Regions from separate parts of the Homo sapiens genome. Here region 2 is linked to region 1. A link means that fine-mapping ties the variant in region 1 to the expression of a gene that starts in the linked region. Tissue or cell type: blood mononuclear cells. Region 1 holds a variant in brackets; the other region holds the start of a gene. All regions are shown on one strand. Distances are between the middles of the regions.

Region 1 (2,680 bases):
ATTTCCCTTTTTCCCATTACCTCTTTGAGTTCAGGGCTGACTTGAATGACTGCCTCTGGTAACAAGGTAGTTCAACATATAATTTTTAAAAGGCATTTCAGGCCAGGCGCGGTGGCTCACGCCTGTAATCCCAGCACTCTGGGAGGGCGAGGTGGGTGGATCACGAGGTCAGGAGTTGGAGACCAGCCTAACCAACATGGTGAAACCCCATCTCTACTAAAAATACAAAAATTAGCCAGGTGTGGTGGCACGCACCTGTAATCCCAGCTACTCAAGGAGGCTGAGGCAGGAGAATCGCCTGAACCCCGGAGGCGGAGGTTGCAGTGAGCCGAGATCGCGCCACTGCACTCCAATATGGGTGACACAGCGAGACTTAGTCTCAAAAAAAAAAAAAAAAGGCATTTCAATAGGGTTCAAGGTAATATTCAGGGATGGCCCTGAAACAGAGAAGTGCTATCAAAATAGAAAATTGTACAGATTTAAGAATTTGAACTCTGCAGAAAGAGAACTCAGAAAAGCATAAGTAGTAAATCCACAGAATTGTTACAAAGGAAAAAAAAGCTTGGCTTCTCTTTAAGCATCATGCACTTTCTTACAAGGCTAACTTGTTAATTACCAAAAAGAAATACAACCATTGAGCAGAGCAGAATGTACCCACTGTAAGGTTAGACCATTGTTTCCCTTGTGGGAAAGCAAACCATATGGTTAAACATGAATCAGAACCAGGTGTGTGAGCTAGTTCTCTAATGGGGCCCCACTGCCCATGGAGACAAGTGCTCCAGTCCACAGGCCACAGAATTCTCCCCTTAGATAGTGGCGGAGGAGAGCTTCTCACTTCTATCTCCCTATACCTATCTATGCTGCAAGCTGAGGGTCCTCCAGTTGGGATTTTTAGCCTTTCTCCACATAACACAATGTAATTTATTGAATTGTGCTTACTAAATTATAAGCATATTATAGTCCTGTCCCTGATATCACACCCAGGTTGTCCCACTGAAAAGTACATCAAATAGACCATTTCTTGGTTTGTTTTCATACAGGGCTAGCTAATCATTAATCAAGTGTAGGTGTTTCAGAAATCTAACATTTCATGGCTGATTCATTTTTCAAATTTCTAATGGGCACTTCATGCTCTCATGGTGCATGACATTCTACTCCTTGTGGAAAATATGTGGCTTAAAACCAAATATCTAGGGATAAAAAACTATGCTAAAAGGTTTTCCCATTACTTTGCCATCATTTCTCTCATCTTTTTAATTATCCACACTAATTACAAATGTTTTCTAAAAAAGAAAATTTGAAATATACAGAAGAGTATTAC[G/A]GAAAATTCTCCTTAATCCCGTTTTGCAGATATAACTACGAATATTTTGTTACATCTATTTACTTTTGTACCTCCACATTCTTATTAGCCAATATGCTTTTGTCTTTTTACTTATTAAATTTTTATATTACATCTAATAATTATAGCGAAATAGTTATATATTCATACATTTTGTAGAACATAGAATATGTATTCAATATATTAAATAATTTATTGGAGAACATGCTAGTCAATGGTTACAGGGTATTCTGTAGTTAAGAAAAAAAGCGACCATATTTATTTAGCCACTCCTGTACCTTTAGATAATTAGGCTGAATCCAATTTTTCACTATCATAAATTATACTGCAATATAAATTATTTTATGTAAATTACTGAGTATCATTTGTTGTTTCTATAGAAAAATATTTCAAGTAGAATGACTGTTAAAAAGAATGAACGTTTTGTAGAGATTTTCTCTTTCTTGTTTTTTTTTTTTTGAGATGGGAATTTCGCTCTTGTTGCCCAGGCTGGAGGGCAGTGGCACGATCTCAGCTCACTGCAACCTCCGCCTCCTGGGTTCAAGCGATTCTCCTGCCTCAGCCTCCATAGTAGCTGGGATTATAGGCATGTGCCACCATGCCCGGCTAATTTTGTGTTTTTGGTAGAGACAGGGTTTCTCCATGTTGGTCAGGCTGGTCTCGAACTCCCGATCTCAGGTGATCCACTCGCCTCGGCCTGCCAAAGTGCTGGGATTACAGGCGTGAGCCACCGCACCCGGCCTGGGATTTTCATATGTTCCTAAATAACCTTTTTAAAATGGCAATAGCAATATCTATTCCAACACATTGCAGATGAGAGATCTCATTCACCTTTGTTTTTTCTTTTGTTCCAGATGCTGATCCCACTCCAAGTCTAGAACATCATTCACATCTTGGACAGCAAATTTCACATACTGATGAAGGCGCCGAATTTCCTATAAGAAAAAAATTAAAAGGCAAATAACTTGTTTTTCTGATAGTTTGGGGGAAGATGTATCAAAACAGTCAAAAGAATTCTAAAATACTTCTATATTAAGAACCATAATGAACAAGGAAAACAGAATAGGTTTTAATACGATTTTTAAAACTATATAATTAAAATGAGGCCGGGTGTAGTGGCTCAGGCCTATAATCCCAACACCCTGGGAGGCCAAGGCAGGAGGACTGCTTGAAGCCAGGAGTTAAAGATCAGCCTGGGCAACACAGCAAGACTCTGTCTCTAATAATGTATACAAATAAAAAAGTTACATAAAAAAACTTTATAATTAAAATGAAAAACAAAATTGGCCAGGAGTGGTGGCTCCTCACTTTGGGAGGCTGAGGCAAGCAGATCACTTGAGG
Region 2 (2,680 bases), 64 kb after region 1:
CAATACCACAACCTGGCCCCAGGCTCGGACCCGCCTCCCACAGCCTTCTCGGGCTCTGCTGACCTCACCAGCGGCCCACTTCCAGACTGTCAGCTGGGCTTAGACCCTGGGTGTCCAGGGGACCAGAGGAGCCTGCAGGGGGAATGCCAAGCCTTGTTTCAGCGGGCGTGCCTCTGCCACCAGTTAAGAAGGAAACTGGGAGACATCCACCTCAGGAAATAATGCTAGTTCTGTGAGTGCTTCCTGAATGCTGGGTGCTGGGCCATGCAGGCCACGGGCCTTCCCTCTCTGAGCCTGCACAATGCCCTGCTTGGAGATGAGAGGCCCTTTGCTGAGGACCACAGAGCTGGCACACAGTGGAGGCCAGATCTGAGCCCAGGTCTTGCAGAACTTTAAAGCCACTGGCTGTGCTGCCTTTGAGCTTTGGCCAACCCAGACAGGTCCTGATATCTTTCCTTATCTTCTAGAATCTATGTAAATTTATGGAGCTCTCACTGGATGCCTGGCAACAACAGGAAAGATTTCTTTTGAGAAATCCACCAGGACCAGCAAGAAAAGCATTGAATCCCTTAAGGCAATCTTTCCTGAAAGTTGGAGTGAAGAGGAGTGGTGTGTTTGAGGGAGGCGGGAGGCTGGAGACCACGGGGAAGTGCCAGGATCTCTACGCCCATCAGAGTCTTCTATTTGTACTTTTGAATCCCTTATAACAACAATAGCTAAGGCCAGGCGTGGGGGCACATGCCTGTAGTCCCAGCTACTCGGGAGGATGAGGAGGGAGGACCGTTTGAATCCCAAAGGTGGAGGCTGCAATGAGCTGAGATTGGGCCACCGAACTCCAGCCTGGGCGACAGACCAGCAAATGACCCGGAGCCTGTGTTCTGAGCTGGAGAGATCACTGGCCTAGGGCCCTTCCCGCGCCAAATCCTTGGGCTGCTCCCAAGCGGGCTTGCGGGGAGCCACGAGCCGGCTGGCATCCGAGCTCCTGACCCGGCCCCACCTCCCCAGTCCCCAGTTGCAAGAGTAACAACTTGCAACCCGAGACCGGAGGCGGGAGGCGGAGGCGGACCTACCTGGAGTCGGAGGCGACGGGGCTGGGGGCGGAGGGAGGCACCTGAGGGAAGCCCAGGGGAAGGGAAGGAAGAGGGTAGATCTGGAGGCGGGCACGGCCTCGCGGAAGGAGAGGTGGCACCCGCGCAGCGCGCGGCTCGGGACTCGCGTGCTGCCCTGGGCGCGGGGCTTACCCGGTTGATCTCGGCCAGCCTCCTCTCCTGCCGGGCTTTGAGCAAGCCGAACGCCTTCCCTCCTGGAGGAGACAAAGAGGCGGCCTGGGAAGCGGGGTCCTCTTCGGGCCACGCGCCCCCGTCCCCGCCCGCTTCCCGCGCGCGGTGGACCCCGCGGTCCGCCCGGCGCGCACAGGTGGCTGCTCGGGGACGGCGGCGCCTACCTTGGAACCTGTTGCTGAGCTCGCCCGACATGGCGAGCGCGGGGCTCCCGCCGGCTCCAGGCTTCGCGGACGCGGCGAGGGACGAGGAGGAGGCACAGGCGCCTGGTCCGGGCTCCGGCTAGCTGCGTGTGGCCGCGGGACCGAGGGGCGGAGGAACGGCGCGGGCGGCCGACACACCCCTCCCTCCGCTGCCGGCCCCTCCCTCCCTCCCTCCCGCCTCGCCCCTCCCCTCCCGCCTCTCCCCTCCCCTCCCGCCTCTCCCCTCCCCTCCCGCCACCCGCTCCGCGGGCTTCAAAGCGGCTATTATGCGGGACGCTGAGCCCGCCGGCCGACCCCTCTGCTGGAGGACGCGGAAAGTGCAAAGCGCGGGGCGGCCGCACCCCTCCTCTCTGCCCCTCCCCGGACCTCAGCAAGTCCCTGCCACACAAATGAAATGCGAGGATCTTAGCATGAACTCCATGGGGTGGTTGTGAGGACCAAGTGCCGTCGGGGAGTCGGCGCTCAAACATCACTGCTGCCTTTGGGGCAGTGCGGCTGCTGTGACAACAGTGGCCCGTCAAATCAATTGGAATGAATTCGTGTCTTGTTAATAAAAGAGATTTCTTGGGCACTCACAGGCACTTTGCACCGTACACCAGTCATTTCATTCTCAAAACTCCATGAAATAGGACTTGGCATTCCCATTTCCAGAAGAGAAAAGTCAGGAAGCTGGAGCTGGGGCGCAAGGCCACCAGGAGGAAAGACCAGCCCATGACTCCAGGAAGAGCGGAGCTCAGGATGCAGGATAGGGTACCTGTGGCCAGGGTGACCATGAAGTCTAGTGTCCAAATCAGGACAGCCAGAGTCAAGGGAGCACTCCTCATAATGATGCTGGGCCACAGGCATAGACAGGCGCTGTCCAGGGCAGGCAGCGCTAGGAATGGCCCCACCGTGCATCTGACTCCTAGGGTAGGGACCCTGAGATCATCTTTCTTATTTATTTATTTTTTTCGAGGCAGAGTCTTGCTCTGTTGCCCAGAGCTGGAGTGCAGCGGCTTGATCTCGGCTCACTGCAACCTTCGCCTCCGGGTTCAAGTGATTCTCCTGCCTCAGCCTCCCAAGTAGCCGGGACTACAGGCACACACCACCACGCCCAGCTAATGTTTGTATTTTTAGTAGAGACGGGGTTTCATCATGTTGGCAAGGTTTGTCTCGAACTCCTGACCTAAGGTGATCCACCTGCCTCGGCCTCCCAAA

The links. PIP is the estimated chance that this variant, and not a neighbour inherited with it, causes the effect.
Region 2: AIF1L starts here. The variant in region 1 is fine-mapped to the expression of AIF1L in blood mononuclear cells (TOPMed, PIP above 0.99).

The regions. Positions count from the first base shown.
Region 1 is chr9:131,158,977-131,161,656 of GRCh38, reverse strand. It overlaps NUP214 (nucleoporin 214), which reads right to left. Exons shown (of 36, transcript NM_005085.4): 18 at 2,171-2,274. Among named protein-coding and RNA genes, the nearest start is that of NUP214, 35 kb to the right of the region's middle. The variant G/A (reference allele first, on the strand shown) is at 1,322.
Region 2 is chr9:131,095,425-131,098,104 of GRCh38, reverse strand. It overlaps AIF1L (allograft inflammatory factor 1 like), which reads right to left and starts at 1,574. Exons shown (of 6, transcript NM_031426.4): 1 at 1,445-1,574; 2 at 1,242-1,303. The coding sequence starts at 1,475. RefSeq lists an enhancer at 738-1,237.